2 separate regions of the Homo sapiens genome follow, and region 1 is linked to region 2. Evidence: fine-mapped expression QTL. A gene starts in region 2. The other region holds a variant in brackets. All regions are shown on one strand. Distances are from middle to middle.

The links.
Region 1: its variant is fine-mapped to the expression of ALOX12B in stomach (GTEx, PIP 0.97).

What each region holds. Positions count from the first base shown.
Region 1 is chr17:8,829,619-8,837,941 of GRCh38, reverse strand. PIK3R6 (phosphoinositide-3-kinase regulatory subunit 6) reads left to right here. Exons shown (of 20, transcript NM_001010855.4): 5 at 71-139; 6 at 1,019-1,151; 7 at 1,326-1,395; 8 at 2,486-2,669; 9 at 4,897-5,053; 10 at 8,150-8,236. Among named protein-coding and RNA genes, the nearest start is that of PIK3R6, 34 kb to the left of the region's middle. RefSeq lists enhancers at 310-1,116, 4,642-4,721. The variant C/T (reference allele first, on the strand shown) is at 4,376.
Region 2 is chr17:8,084,392-8,092,714 of GRCh38, reverse strand. ALOX12B (arachidonate 12-lipoxygenase, 12R type) reads left to right here and starts at 4,999. Exons shown (of 15, transcript NM_001139.3): 1 at 4,999-5,419; 2 at 6,495-6,699. The coding sequence starts at 5,273. MIR4314 (microRNA 4314) reads right to left here and starts at 4,659; the gene lies at 4,568-4,659. RefSeq lists an enhancer at 5,223-5,971.

The DNA.
Region 1 (8,323 bases), 750 kb before region 2:
AGACTGCCTCCCGCTATGAAGTGGGGATTCCCCCAGCCCAATACCTGTCACGTGATCTCCTGTTTTCCAGGCGGAAAGCCAGGACCTCCGGCATGTCATCATTCCCTTGCTGCACACTGTAATGTACGTGCTCACCAAGGTGAGCTGGGGACTGAGGTCGAGGTGGTAGTGGTGACCTGCATGTGGCTGGGCTGGACACTCTCCCCTTAGTGGGCACTCAGTCTCCGCCAGGATGAGCCTAGAAAATCCCTTGGATTGCCTGCCCTAAACTGGCTTCTGAGCACTAGCCACCCCCTTTCCCTCCCATATGGAGAGAGAACTCTGGAGAGACAATGGCCTTGAAAGGCAGGATGAGGTCTTTGGGTTTGCTCCTGTGTGCAGTGCAACAGGAGACATCACTGATCCCTACACAGAGAAGAGACATGATACTCATGTGGTTAATGTCTCAGGAGGAGTAATCGGGAGCTGCGTGTTGTTGCAGCGGGTGGGAGTGGTGGTTAAGGCAGGCAGGAAGACCAAGTCTGGGGTTGCTGGAGAGTCCAGGGTCAAGATGGGGCTTAGCTCCGGCAGAGACGGAGGGCACACTGAGGTCGGGAGGGAGAGGGGGGCCTCCCGGGCACTGTGGAGCATTTCAGGCCTGTGGGATGCAAGGAGGAGCAAAGGAGACTGAGGAAGTGCCTCCATGGTTTTGAGCCTGGAGAACCGCAGGAATGTGCTTCCCTGATGGAGCAGGAGGGCTGGGAGGAAGTTGATTTGCTTGCATAACTTGATGCAATGAATTTTTATCTTGGTAAGTTGGGGCGGGGCGACAAATGGATGTCTTACAGGTGCTGGGAGAAGAGGCTGGAAGGTGTGGGTTTGGGAGAGAGCTGTGAGCCCAGGTCTGGCTGTTAGGCCTGACCTTCCACCTCTTCTCCCAAGCCCCTCCCCGGAAACTCCCCCGGGACCCTTCACCTCCCCCTCCTCCCTCTTACCTCCACCTCCTCCCTCTCACCTCCCCCTCCTCCCTCTCACCCAGGCCACAGGAATCACAGAAGAGCTCTACCAGAGAATCTATGCCTTTTGCACAAGGTTACTGACCCTGCCCACCCCCTACTGCACAGTCGCCTTGGACTGCGCGATAAGGCTGAAAACGGAGATGGCTGTCCCAGGTAAGAGTCACTGGGCATCTTTGTCTCCCACGCTGCACCTCCAACATTGCCCAGGGTCTTTCCTTTTTCTCCAGGATACCGGGGAGCTCAAAAGCCTCCACACCTTCTGTAGGAAGGTGGAGAATGGGAGTCAGAGACTTGGGGGCTGTTTGGCCAAAGTGGTCTGGTTTGCAGGGACACTGTACCAAAGGATGGTCATTGCCGAACAGAACTTGACGAATGAGCTGTATCCCTACCAGGAGAGGTGAGTGGCCCCAGAAAAATTGCTACCTTCAGCCTCCTAAAACTGTTGTGGCTTTAGTGACTGCTCCCTGGCAGGAGGACAAAAGAGGAGGCTGGATTAAGAAGAGCCCTAGCAGACCTCCCCAGCCATGATATTTGTCCAGCAGTGGGGTGCGTTTGCCATTCAAGGTTGGCGCCATATTGTTTTCTGGAGACCACTGAACACAGGATAGGTCTTTCTTCTCAGGTTGGATTGGAAGCTACCCTGCTCACATGCAGAAGGTGGACATGGCCTCGGGGCCACTCTGGGGCTCTGTCATTCCACCTCCATCCTGCCCTTGGCCATAATGCAGCATCATACCAGCCAGGCAGCCAGAGGAGACTCCAGAATAGCCATAGCGGAGGGGCTCAGGCGCAAGTGCACAATGAAGCCAGAGGGCTTCCATGGGGGACGCCAAGCCTCTTAGATAAGACTGAGGAAGTGTCCCCTGCTCGTGTTGGGGAGAGGGGTGATGAAGTTGGGAGCGGCACCTCCCTCTTCTGCAGGCACCTCCACTAACTTGGCCCTGAAAGGCACAGCTTGAGTTTGGGGTGTGAGGTGCTGAGTTCATGAAAGATGCAAGGAGGCCCAGGGCACCCATGGGAGAGGTGGGGAGACACAGTGGGTGAGGAGGAGGGAGTAGGGGAGGTTGGCTCTCTGGTGTGATAAGAGTGATGAAAGAAGGTGAGATTCACTCAGAGTTCAGAACTCCAGTTCTGGCAGGAAGGATTTAGGGTCCCTCCTAGAGGGTGACCTGGTCCCTGGGCCAGGATGCTGAGAGAGGGAGCAGGATTGAGGCTGGAACTTTCCTAAACATGGGACTAGGCCTGCTTTCCTCTGTGGACAGTGGATTAGAGCTGCCCCTCTAGAAGGGCTGTGCATGCTCTTATTTGCCACAGTCCTCACCACTCCCTATTGTCATCCCACCCAGAGACTTTTGAATCTGAGACTCCTCTTTTTAGCAGAATTAAATTACTTGGAGGTGCTGCACAGCTCTGAGGGTGCCCATCCGGTGGCCCCTCTCCCATTAGTTACTATCAATCCCACCTCTCCCCTCTGCTTCTGCCCTCAGAGTGTTCCTCTTCGTGGATCCTGAGCTGGTGTCTGCGTCTGTGTGCAGTGCTCTGCTACTGGAGATCGAGGCGGCCCAGGCGCAGCAGACACCAGAGACCTGCATGCGCCACGTGGTCTCCCACGCCCTGCAGGCGGCTCTGGGGGAGGCCTGTCACGCAGGCGCTCTGCACAGGAAGCTGCAGGTAATGGCCCTGCCTGCAGCCCCTTGTCAGTCCCAGCCCTCGTCCCTGCATGCCCATACCAGTCATTCACCCTGCTCTTCCTCCTTCTCCTGTTTCGCATCACCTTTTCCCCCAAATCAAAAATTAATACATTTTGGCTGGGCGCAGTGGCTCACACCTATAACCCCAGCACTTTGGGAGGCTGAGGCGGGTGTATCACCTGAGGTCAGGAGTTCAAGACCAGCCTGGCCAACATGGCGAAATCCAGTCTCTACTAAAGATACAAAAACTAACTGGCCGTGGTGGCGGGCACCTGTAATCCTAGCTACTCTGGAGGCTGAGGCAGGAGAATAGCTTGAACCCGGAAAGTGGAGGTTGCAGTGAGCCAAGATTGTGCCACTGCACTCCAGCCTGGGTGACAGAGAGAGACTCCATTTCCAAAAAAAAAACCAATAATAAGATATAAGATAATGCCAGTATTCCTAGCAGCAGGGTGAATGAGTGTCTCAGCCCCGAAAGCAGGAATCTGGGTCACCACAACAGTAGCTACTACATCATCTCACTCGGAGTCAAAGCCAAAGTGATTGCAATGACCTATAAGAGCCTGGTGTGGTGGTTCATGCCTATAATTGCAGGTACTTGAGAGGCCGAGGCAGGAGGATTGCTTAAGGCCAGGGGTTTGAGACCAGCCTGGGCAACATAGCAAGACCCCATTTCTACAAAAAGTAATAAAAAAAAAAAAATACCAGACGCAGTGACATGTGTTTGCAGTCCCAGCTACTCGGAAGACAAGAGGATCACTTGAGCCAAGTTCAAGGCTGCAGTGAGCTGTGACTGTACCACTGCACTCTAGCCTGGGTAACAGAGAGACACCCCATCTCTAAAAATAAAAATACAAGAACCTCATCTTGAGGGCCTTGACCTGTTCCCATCTCTCTTCATTTCCTCTCTGGCCTGTCTCCTAACTTTCCCTCTCATTTCCTCTGCTCCAGCTAAACAAGCCTCCTCATTTGTCTCCCAACATGCACATGCCTAACATACTTGCACCCCAGGGCCTTTGCGCTGGCTACTCCCTATGCTTGGAACGTTCTCTTAGATACCTGCACGACTCACTCTTTTTTTTTTTTTTTTTTTTTTGAGACGAAGTCTTGCTCTGTTGCCCAGGCTGGAGTGCAGTGGCGTGATCTCGGCTCACTGCAAGCTCCGCCTCCTGGGTTCACGCCATTCTCCTGCCTCAGCCTCTCTGAGTAGCTGGGACTACAGGCGCCGGCCACCACACCCAGCTAATTTTTTCTATTTTTAGTAGAGACGGGGTTTCACCGTGGTCTCCATCTCCTGACCTCGTGATCCACCTACCCCGGCCTTCCAAAGTGCTGAGATTACAAGCGTGAGCCACCGCGCTGGGCTGCATGGCTCACTCTTTCACTTCAAGTCTTTACCTAAAAGTCACTTTCGGCCAAGCGCGGTGGTTCACGCCTGTAATCCCAACACTTTGGGAGGCCAAGGCAGGCAGATCATGAGGTCAGGAGATCGAGACCGTCCTGGCCAACATGGTGAAACCCCGTCTCTACTAAAAATACAAAAATTGGCTGGATGTGGTGGTGCGCACCTGTAGTCCCAGATACTCGGGAGGCTGAGGCAGGAGAATCGCTTGAACCCAGGAGGCAGAGGTTGCAATGAGCCAAAGTCACACCACTGCACTCCAGCCTGGGTGACAGAGCAAGACT[C/T]CGTCTCAAAAAAAAAAAAAAAAAAGTCACTTTCTCAGGGGGGGCTTCCCAGATCACACAATCTCTTTTGTTTGCTGCTGTATCCCAGCCCCTAGAACAACACCTGGTGCAGTGAGCTATTCTAAGTGCTGGAGATGCAGCTATGAATGAAACAGACAAAATTCCCTGTGAATTCCTGGAATTCACAATCTAGTGGGGGCTAGAACATTGATCCAAGTGCTGGGTGACGCTTTCAGGAAGTGGGCGTCAGTGGCTATCTCTGCCTCTCTGGGTAACAGACATTGCAGACCAGTAGTCTCCCCATAATAGCGTGTGAGGGGCAGAGGGGAACCCCCACTTGCAGGGCAGGCATAGGGCCCTGGATGTGGGATCCAGAAGCCTTCGGGGGAAGCTCCTGCCGGGCCCCCAGGGGCAGCGGAGAGGTGTCACCTTGGGCTGCCAGGGCCCTGCGGACTTGGCTTAGGAGCTGGGGTGCGTGGGCGCTGGGCCAAGACCCAGGCTCTGACGCCCCTCCCCAACAGGCCAGCCCTCGCCGCACCCTGGAGCACTATTTCCACGCCGTGGTGGCCGCCTTGGAGCAGATGGCCAGCGAGGCCAGCCCGAGCCGGGAGGGACACGTAGAGAGGCTGGAGGAGATTTACTGCTCGCTGCTGGGTCCCGCGGCGGGGCGCTGCGGTGGTAAGCGACTGGCAGATGGGGGGCCTTGGCAAGAGTCCCGCGGGGGCAGCTCACTGCACAGCAGGGGGCGCCAGAGAGCAGCGCTGGACCTGCCTCTGTCTGGGTGCCTGGCCGACTCCCAGGAGCCTGGGGACTGGGGGCAGCCTGGGGGTTTGGCAGGACCGGGACTAAGAGGCGGGTAATTAGGCTGGGAGCGGTGGCTCACGCCTGTTAACCCAGCATTTTGGGAGGCCGAGGCAGGCGGATCACCTGAGGTCAGGGTTTCGAGACCAGCCTAGGCAACATGGGGAAACCCTCTACTAAAGTAGTAGAGGGTTTAGTCTCAAAAAAAAAAAAAAATCAGCTGGGCGTGGTGGTGGGCACCTGCAGTCCCAGCTACTCGGGATGCTGAGTTAGGAGAATCACTTGAACCAGGGAGGCGGAGGTTGCAGTGAGCCGAGATCACACTACTGTACTCCAGCCTGGGCGACAGAGCGAGACTCCGTCTCAAAAAAAAAAAAAAAAAAAAAAAAAGAAGGTGGGTAATTTGGTCATGATAACCGCCGATGCCCACAGAGCCCCTACTATACTCCAGTTGCTGTTCTAATCACCTTACATATATTTAAATATATTGCGTATACTGTATTAAATCAATGAAACCTCACAGTCAACTTATAAGCAGAAACTATTATTATCCCCATTTTACAGAGGACGAAACTGAGTTAGAAAGAGGTTAAATATCTTGCCCAAGATCACCCAAGGCAGTAAATGGCAAAGCCAAGATACAAATCCAGGCTGTCTAGTTCACTACTCAGCTGCAGTAATCCAAGGATTTGATCGTCCAAGGACCAGAGCATCTAAAAGAGCAGATGAGTCAACATCGTTTATATCTGGTATCATAGATTTTTATTCCTCACCCTTCCTATTTGCATATTTATAAGATAACGCCTTATCTTATGCAAGGCATAATGTAGGTAAGATAATGCCTACCCTGACACAAGCCCCATGTGGATGGGGGCATCTGAAATAGCCCAGAGAAACGTCCCGAATATGTGTTTCCTGGCTGTTGTAGGATGGTTCTGATTTGGGTCCTATTTCGTGGTCATTCAAAGTATCATGGAATATGTCAGCCTGCATGTCCCAGATATGCACAGTCACTGATCGTGCACCTGTCATTATAAGGCATGGGGTTAAGGACTGGAATCCACCGGAAGAGGTTAGTGTGCCAGGCCCTGGGTTTGAACTTGGCAGCCCAGGTTGGGTGGAGGCCACAGCAGTTGGGTGAGGTGGGCAGGATAGTCCCTGCCTAAAGACTCCATCTTCGAAGTTGTCCGCTCTTTTACTTTAACATTCTACACTGCCTCTGATCCCACATGGAAAAAGCTCCTCCTGTACCCCAAGCTGGGACTAACCCTGGGGCCAATCTGGCTTTGCTCCCCTTGTGGCCCCTTGCTAACACTCACCAGTGACTCTGCATGGATTAATTAAGACCATCTGGGCCACCCCCAAGACACATCCAAGGGCACCTGTCTCCTGCCCAGACTTGCCCTGTGCCTTTTTTTTTTTTTTTTTTTTTTTTTTAGACAGGGTCTTGCTCTGTCACCCAGGCTGGAGTGCAGTGGCTCGATCATGGCTCACTGCAGCCTTGACCTCCTGGGCTTAAGCGATCCTCCCACCTCAGCCTTTCGACTAGCTGGGACCACAGGCACGTGCCACCACACCTGGCTAAGCCCTGTGCATCTTTTTTTTTTTTTTTTTTTTTTTGAGACACAATCTTGCTCAGTCACCCAGGCTGGAGTGCAGTGGCTCAATCTCCGCTCACTGCAAGCTCTGCCTCCTGGGTTCACGCCATTCTCCTGCCTCAGCCTCCCGAGTAGCTGGGACTACAGGCGCCTGCCACCATGCCCAGCTAATTTTTTTGTGTTTTTTTAGTAGAGACGGGGTTTCACCGTGTTAGCCAGGATGGTTGCGATCTCCTGACCTCGTGATCCACCCTCCTCGGCGTCCCAAAGTGCTGGGATTACAGGCATGAGCCACCGTGCCCGGCCAAGCCCTGTGCATCTTAATGACCAGGCAGCACCCCCGTCAAGCCCCTGTGGCTGTAGGGGGCAGTATGGAGTGGTGATTATAAGCACAGTGTTGTGGGTAAGAGCAGGAACTCTGGAGCTGAGCTGCCTGGGCTCAAGTCGTCACTGTACTATTTACTATGTGACCTTGGGCCAGTTATTCAACCTCTCTGTGTCCTGGCTTCTCCCCTGTAAATTGAGGATAATAATGTCACCTGTTGCCCAGGGCCATTGGCAGGATCCAGAGAAATGATTACAGTGTGTGCCAGGTGAGTAGAATAAGGCCTGGCAGGCAGTAGGTGCTCAGTGAACACTAGCTGCTCTCCCCTAAGAAGCTTGCAGCCTCATGAGTGGGGAGCCACAGCAATATAGAAGTGAAACGGGAATACGGAGCCAAATCCTAAGACCACATGTGAGGTGTGCCCAGTGTGCAGACAGTCTGCTCGGAGGGAATGACCACCGCGGGCCACTGGAGTGGTCAGAAAAGATTCTAGAAAGAGAAGCAGGAAGAAGGGCTGTCCTTTGTCTCTCCCCTGGACTGCCCGGGGTTCCTGCTGCCCCCAAACTTTGTTGATGAGTTCTCGTCAGCATCGCCGACAGCTGCAAATGTTAACTGAGTGTCTACTGCATGCAAGATATTGGAAGCAGCCCTGAGAAGGGCAGGGGTCTTTCCTGCCTCGTCTGGATGCAGGCAGGGCATTTTAAGAACAGTGGGAAAGCCAGTCTGGCAGCTGCACAGGGCTGAAGGCATGGCCAGCATAGGAGCATAGGTTGGAAAAGGCCTTGTGAGCTGGTTTGTGAAGACCCCCTAAGGGTTGAGCTAGGTTTGAGAAAACGTAGCTACTAAGCATTGTTGGACAGGGAGGGGACAGCTGCACTGTTGGGCCCTGGATGGGCTGGTGGTGGCAGAGATGGAAAGGCAGACCAGATGTGAAGGAGAGAGTCCCTGCCACCTCTCTAAGACCCCGCACAGGAGCTGGGCAGGATGGGGAGGGCAGAGGAGGGTCCCATGGCCTCCTCCATGGCCTCCACAGCCTGCTCCTTTCTGCAGGTGACCTTGTCCAAGAGCGGCCACCAAGCATTCCCCTGCCCAGCCCCTACATCACCTTCCACTTGTGGACCGGTGAGGAGCAGCTCTGTACGTGCCCATGGAGCTGTCTGGAAACAGTGGTATATGTCTGTGTCTGTGTGTGTATGCGTGCATGAGTGTGTGTCAGTGTGCATG
Region 2 (8,323 bases):
ACGGTGGTCAGGGAGGGACTCTGAGGAGGTGACACTAGAGTTGAGACCTGGATGACATGAACAACACACGCTTAGGGTCGGGTGCGGTGGCTCACTCCTGTAATCCCAGCACTTTGGGAGGCTGAGACAGGCAAATCGCTTGAGCTCAGGAGTTTGAGACCAGTCCCGGCCACGTGGCAAAATCCCATCTCTACCAAAAGATACAAAAAATTAGCCAGGTGGACTACGCCTGTGGTCCCAGCTACTCGGGAGACCAAGGTGGGAGGATCGCTTGAGCCTGAGAGGTGGAGGTTGCAGTGAGCTGAGATTGCACCACTGCACTCCAGCCTAGGTGACAGAGTGAGACACCGTCTCAAAACAAACAAACAAACAAACAAACAAACAAAACCACTCTTGAAACAGCTTGAACAGCTTGGTTGAAACAGCTTGAACAGCTTGGGGGAAGGGTATTACAAACCCAGGAATGGCAAATGCAAGGGTCCTGAAGGACACATGTTCTGGGTACAGCAAGAAGGCCAGAGTGGCTGGAAAAAGGTGTCGGGAAGGCATGGTCTTGTAGACATGATAAGTCCTTGGATTCGTCTCTTTTCTTTCTTTCTTTCTTTCTTTTTTTTTTTTTTTGAGACGGAGTCTCTCTCTATTGCCCAGGCTGGAGTGCAGTGGCGCTATCTTGGCTTACTGCAATCTCCACCTCCCCTGTTCAAGCGATTCTCCCGTCTCAGCCTCCTGAATAGCTGGGATTACAGGCGCGTGCCACAACGCCCGGCTAATTTTTGTATTTTTAGTAGAGACGGGGTTTTACCATGTTGGTCAGGCTGGTCTTGAACTCCCGACCTCATGATCCGCCTGTGTTGGCCTCCCAAAGTGCTGGGATTATGGGCATGAGCCACCGCGCCTGGCCCTTGGATTCATTTCTACGGACAACCCCATTTTAAGCTCTGGTGAACTTTAAGCAGGGGAGTGGCGTGATTTGATTTTTCTTTCTCTGTGTCTTAGGAGAGTGGGTCCCCAGGAGTTAGTTGCTCCTTGCCTTGCAGGGCTTGGGGTGGGGTCAGGCACGGGGGATACCCCAGCAGTGAGAACTCAGCTTCCTGTGTGGATGGCCCCTAGTTAGCAACCCCAGTGAGTGTGAATCCTTCCCAGAAACCTCTCCTCCTCACTGGCTCCCGCCCCTGGTCCAGGAGAACCAGTTCTTCAGCCCAATGAGCACCTATCAAGAGTCACGCGTCTACGTTTTGGTCATAGCTGGGGAGTGCCCCATCTACATCCTCATGCCTGATCCCGTCCCTGTCCCTGCCCCAGCCACATTGACATCCTCAGCATCCCTGCCTCCATCTCCGTCTCCCTCAGGAACCTAATTCCCACTCCACACTGGAGCCCTGAGCAAACCCAGGGCCACCCTGGGATTTGGGTTGGAGGAGACCTATTGGTAGCAGGATATGACTCAGTTTGCCCAGTCCACTGCCCTGCTTCTCACCAAGCCTCAGCAGCCCCCTGGGGACACAGGGCAAAGGGGAGAGATTAGAAAGAGGAAGCTGGGAGAATTTGCATGGAATTTGCATCTTAAGATTTGCATCTTCAGGCTCCCAGCATCCTCCAAGAGTCATCGAGGTGGTTGAGGAGGGAGATCCCAGGGGGGAGATCCAGCTGGACGGCTTCTGTCTGCAGCCCAGGACAGCCAGCCCTGCCACCCAGAGCTGGGCACAACCCTCATCCTCAGCCTTCTCCCCTCTCCTCCCTCCCTCCCCACCCAACCCCTTTCCCTCCCCTACACCACGCCTTGCCCCTTCTCTCACCCTGAGCCCAAGTCAGCTCTCTTCGGATCTTCACCATAACTCCAAAGCCATCATCGATTCAATCCCCAGCCCTGACCTTGTCCTTGTCATTAACCCATTCAACTATGTTTTCGGTGTCTCCCAGGTACCAAGTATGACACCAGGAGATGGGGACAAAACCAAAAAAAAGTATGGACTAATTTATTAGAGAAAACAGACATCAATCAAAGATGTTAGCTATAGTGCTGTGAGAGCCATGTATAGTGAAATTTGGCTTTCCTGGAAAAAGCAATTATTGAGCTAAGATCAGGAGGAAGAGGAAACGTGACCTCAGTTTGAGAGGTAGAGAGGGAACAGCATGTGCCAAGGCCCTGGGATGGTGACGAGCTGACTTCACTTCCTTCAGGTCTTTACTCAAAAGTCTTCTTCCCAAGGAGCCCTCCTTGGCCACTCTGTATCTAAAATATCCTCCTTTTCTTTTTTCTGAGATGGATTTTCGCTTTTGTTGCCCAGGCTTGATAGCAATGGCATGACCTTGGCTCACTGCAACCTCTGCTTCCTGGGTTCAAGCTATTCTCCTGCCTCAGCCCCCGAGTAGCTGGGATTACAGGCATGCGCCACCATGCCCGGCTAATTTTTATTTTTAGTAGAGACGGGGTTACTCCATGTTGGTCAGGCTGGTCCCGAACTCCTGACCTCAGGTGATCCGCCCACCTCAGCCTCCCAAAGTGCTGGGATTACAGGCATGAGCCACCATGCCCGGCACTCCTCTATTTTTTATATTATCCTTCCCTGTTCTCTCTTTTCTCTTCAGCACTTATCACTATTTAACATACTATTTAATGTATTTGGTTACTAGGTAATATTGTCTGCTTCCCTCACTTGAAGGCAAGCTCCATGGGTGCAGGGGTTTGCTTTGATCGCATTGTATTTTCAGGACCTGACACAGCGCTGAACACACAGTAGGGGTTCGGCCAGTGTCTGTTGATGAATGAATGAAAGGCACGTGGTCCCAGACAGAAGAGAGCAAAGGGGAATGTGAGGGGTGAAGCCAATCAGGCAGGCCGTGGGGGCCACGGGAGGGGATGGTGTCACTGTCCCAAAGGTAAAGAGGAGCCACTGCCAGGCTTGATCAGGGTTGGGAGGAGGGAACATAGAGAGTGATGTGAACAGATTTGGGTCTGGAAAAGATCATTTCAATCCCCAACTCCAGCCACATCTGTGTCTCTAACCTAAACCTGAATTGCAGTTTCGACCCCATTCCACATCCAGTCTGGAACCTACTGGAACCTTCTCTTCATCTCACAATCCCAGCCCCCTCTGACCCTAACTTGGCCTGGGCATTGAATGACCTTCCTTCGATGGTGATGGAAGCGTGCCATCAGGGAGGAAAGCAGGGCTATGCTTCCTGGTTGACAGAAGCTGCTCCTCGGAGGTGAAAGGAAAGAGGACAGGTCCAGAAAAAGGGAATAGGAACGTGCCTGCCTCCTCACTCTCCCTGGGTCCCAAATCCTATCTTTGGAGAGTCTATCTCTGACTCTCTCATAATGCTCTTCACCTTACTCCTAACACCTTCTCCCTATCCTGCGGCTCTGACTTCTGTGATTCTATCAGCAACTAGTTCCCAATCCCAACCTCCCACGCTTATTTTCTTCAGAGCACTTAGTATCCAAAATTATAGTGAACAAATTCTTGTTTACTGTTTCTTTCACTTCTTTCCCAGCTATTCCGTAAGCTCCATGTATGTTTCATTTCTTCTCTGCCTCTGCAGTGCCTAGAACGCCGTGCACCGTGCTCACTACATATCTGAGGGAGGAACGACCTGGTTCCCAACAAACACAGTTCCACTGGAGCTCAGCCCTGCCTCCAGCCCTCTTCCTAGCTTCATTCTTTTTTGGGAGGGAAGTGAGGGTATGTACTTTATGAAATTAAAGGATAACACATAATGAAATGAATGAAGTACCCTAGACGCCCCTCAGATCAAGATAAGAACACCTCCAGCAGCCTATATGGCCTCCCTCTGCCAGGGATACTCACCAGTAGAGGTTGTCTGAGAATTGCTCAGTTTTGCTGGTTCTGGAAGTTCCTATCAATGGATAACAGAACGTATCCCCTTTAATGTCTGGCTCTTTTTGCTCAGTATCATCTTTGTGAGACTCATCCGCATTGCAGTTCATTCTTTTTATTCCTGGGTAGAATTCTATTTTATGATTATACCACAAAATATTGATCATATTAATCCATTATTTAACTTAATTCTTTTGTCTTTTTTTTTTGGAGACGGAGTCTTGCTCTGTTGCCCAGGCTGGAGTGCGGTGGCACGATCTCAACTCACTGCAACTTCCGCCTCCTGAGTTCAAGCGATTCTCCTGCCTCAGCCTCCCAAGTAGCTGGGACTACAGGCGCATGCCACCACGCCTGGCTAATTTTTGTATTTTTAGTAGAGACAAGGTTTCACCATGTTGGCCAGGCTGGTCTCGAACTCTTGAGCTCAGGTGACCCACCTGCCTTGGCTTTCTAAAGTGCTGGGATTACAGGCGTGAGCCACCACGCCCAGCTATTTAACTTAATTCTTATGCCCCAGATTTCACTCTGTCTTCTAATTTAGTTTTTTTTTTTTTTTTTTTGGGCTTCTGATTTTATATCCAACTCCAATCCCTCACCAGTGGATCCTGGCCCCACAGGAAGCAACAGATCCCCTTCTCCTACCCTGATCGTTCCTCCCCGCAGCATCTTCAGGCCTTTGGGCACCCATGTGGTCCCCGAGCCCTAGCTTCAACACCTCCCACCCTTCCAGTCACAGACTCTGGGCCCTGGGGCAGAAGGACAGGCCAGCTTTCTCACTGTGGCCACTACCTGTCCCATTTCCCAGAGAGGAATGGCCTGGAGGCTGGCCAGCTGCGCTGCCACTTAGTGCCCCTCCCCCTCCCCTCCCCCGCCCACCAGTGGCCTCAGAACCAATGCAAGTCACTCACTGCCCATGGCCCTGCTTAGTAGGGGTGCCTGGCACTGTAGCCAATGGGGACTGGCAGGAGGAAGGAGCTTATTAGTCTGATAAAGATCTGGGGACCACACCCTGCCCCCTCCCGCAACTTCCCTAGGGCCCTGGCTCAGGCTGGACTGGCTCCCCCACCCTGAAGGCGCCTTCATCCACGGCATCTTCTATCCGCCCTTTCAGAGGCAGGCCCAGTGCCCTGCCTGCTCTTCCTCCCCACCAGCTCCCAGAAGGCTTGGAGCCCAGACACCTGCTCACTCACCACCAGCTGGGCTCCGCCTGGGCCTGCCCGGCACCCACCCCGGCCACCAAGGGCAGCAGCTTTTCCAGAATTTGGCTGGCAGGCCTAGTCACCCCACCTCGCCACCTCACCACTGCACCTCGGAGGCCAGCCCTGTCCACTCCACTCTGTGCCTGGCTTCTCTTGCCTGCCTTGGGCCTTCGTGTGGCCCCTCCACGGTGTCTGGGACTGAGTGCCCCTCTTGCCTCCTGAAGAGCAGCCATGGCCACCTACAAAGTCAGGGTGGCCACAGGCACCGACCTCTTGTCGGGAACACGGGACTCCATCTCACTGACCATTGTGGGGACACAAGGAGAGAGCCATAAGCAGCTGCTGAACCACTTTGGGAGAGACTTTGCAACTGGGGCGGTAAGAGTGTGTGTGTGTGTGTGTGTGTGTGTGTGTCTGTGTGTGTGTGTGTGTGTGTCTGTGTGTGTCTGTGTGTGTCTGTGTGTCTTTGTGGCCCCGGGAGGGGTGAAGGTGCGCAGGGGGAGCCAGGTGAGCTGAGCTTGGCGAGGAGAGGCTGGAGAGCTGAGGCACAGCTCCGAAGGCAGTGGGCTCCCCAGTGGCTCTACACGCCTTGTCCAGAGCTGGCTTCCAGCCCCTCGCCCATGTCCCAGATCTCTGGGCCATCCTTCTCCATCCTGCTCCTTCATCTCTAACCCTTTCAGGCATTCCTCATCTCCCTCCCCATCCTTTTCTTCTCTCTCCCTCTTCCTCAGCCCTCTCTCCCTGTCTCTGCCTATCCTGCATCTCTCTTTTCTCAATCCTTTCCACCTGCTTTCCTTCCCCTTTGCTCTCCTCCCCTTTCTGTCTTACCCCCTCTCCCGCATCCCTCTCTCTTCCATTCTCAGTCACTCTTCCTAATTCAGCTGCCTCCTAACTGTCTCACATTTGCACTGGATTCTCTGTGACTTAAAATGGCATCAGACCAGCCTGTCCAGTGGAAGGCACGCTTTGCGGGTCCTCAGACCTGATTTTCAGTCAGACCCAGCCACCTGCTGCTAGGCGACCTTAATAGGTCACTCTATCTATGTGGCCATTCTGAATATCTGCATCTTCATTGATGAATGGGAGAAGGGGCTGGCTGGGCCTCTCCCCACTCGAAAACTGTAGAGTGGTACCCAAGTCCCCAGGGGTCTGAAGGGTTCCTGCAACCTCAGGTGCCTGGAGAGGGGAGTGGGAGAAGACAGGAGCTGGGGATGGAGAGAAGGAGGGGCTGGAGTCCTACATAGCCCTGGGTAGAGGAATCCAGTAGGAGACCCCCAAGCTGGAGAAGTCAGAAGGAAGCTCAATGATCAGGTCAATATCCTGTCCCTCCGTCAGTCCAGGGAGGTGAGCATTGCGCAGCATGAGCAGGGCCTAGGTGAGGGGCCAGAGGGGTGGGCGGCCTGGGAGCCGGGGTGAAGTCCTGCCCACTCAGCCAGGCTTGCATCCTGCCTAGGTGGGCCAGTACACCGTGCAGTGCCCTCAGGACCTGGGTGAGCTCATCATCATCCGCCTGCACAAAGAGCGGTACGCCTTCTTCCCCAAGGACCCTTGGTACTGCAACTATGTGCAGATCTGTGCCCCCAACGGCCGTATCTACCACTTCCCCGCCTACCAGTGGATGGATGGCTACGAGACCCTGGCACTCCGGGAGGCCACAGGTAAGCCCTCATCACCCTGCTCCATCCTATGGCCGTGAGGCCTCTAGCTCCAGCCTGCTACCCTGGCATGGCACCCAGGCTCCCATCAAGCCAGAGGGGGGCCCAGCCCCACCAGGGACTCCTGGGCTCTCCTGCCACTGTCACACATTTCCCTCAGTCAGTGCTGCTGCCCTGAGCTCAGCTTGGGGCTGCACATTGGAGGAAGAGAGGTGCCTGAGGCCCAGCAGCTACCCTCAGCATCCCCATCTGGCAGCAGACAGCATTCCCAGAGTGCGCTCCCCGCTACCTCTCCAGTCCTCCCTGACTCCTATAAGATGCCCGGCCACGTTAAAAATACCCCTTGTGATGCTAAGTACAGGCTCAGGACTCTCACAGGAGGCCTATTTATGATGCCAATCATATGCGCTCCAGAAAGACGCCCTGTTACTCCAGCAGGATTCTGTTACTATAACAGGATGCCCCATTATTCCAACCAGCACCTTGCTATCCCATTTAGAAGCCCTTTGAGTTCAACAGGTCTCCGTGGTGCTGCGGTCTTATAATTATGACGCCCTGGCTTTCTTTTTTTGAGACGGAGTTTCACTCTTGTTGCCCAGGCTGGAGTGCAATGGCACGATCTCGGCTCACTGCAACCTCCACCTCCCAGGTTCAAGCGATTCTCCTGCCTCAGCCTCCTGATGCTAGTTTTTGCATTTTTAGTAGAGATGGGGTTTCACTTTGTTGGCCAGGCTGGTCTCAAACTCCTGAACTCAGGTGATCTGCCTGCCTCAGCCTCCCAAAGTGCTGGCATTACAGGCATGAGCCCCAGTTTTCTAATTGAGCATTTTTTAGACTGATGGGATGTTCTATTGCTCCAAAGGACTCCCTATTTTCCCAACAGGACACCATATTTCTCTAACAGGATGCACTGTTACTCCAAAAGGCCCCCCTTAATCCAGTAAGGATCTATCTAATAGGGGCCCTGTTATTCAGATAGACTGTCAGGGTTTCTCCAAGGTTAAGGCTGGCCAAGGCTGCCCAGTGGGTTTTCCACTTGCTTGGTTACTCCCATGGGAGAGACATAGGACCGGAGTGGCTGAGCTCCTTGCACCCACCCCTGCCAGAGCCCCTTGTGTGGTGGGCTGGGGTCAGCTTCCTAATTTGTGGTGCTGCATGAGGACTGGGGGCCTGTCCTCTCTTATCTCCCAGTTCCACCACCTGAGTGTCTGTTGGCTTCCCTTGAGGCGAATGGGAGGGAAAGGCTGAGCTGAGGACACCCAGGGCCCGAAGCCCCATCCTCCCTGCAGCTGACTACCTCTCTTCCGTTTCTCATTGCCCTGTGCTGGAATCTTCCCCCAGGATTGGGGAACAGGGCCTGAGCTGGGGAAAGGAGAGGCGAGGAAAGCCTGGGAGATGGTGAGCATGCCAAGGGGAGGGTCTCACTGGGGACACAGAGCATCTTCCTGCAGTGACAGGTCTGGGTGACATGGAAGCAGGGGACAGGCAGGGTGATGCTGGTGGCCAGGCAGGAATGGGGTTGGGTGGGGCCGCTGCCACGCAACAGGACAGGGAGACTTGAGTCACCCATAGGGCCCTCAAAGGAGTGAGTCTTCCGCCCTGGGGATGAAAACGAGCTAGGTCTCTG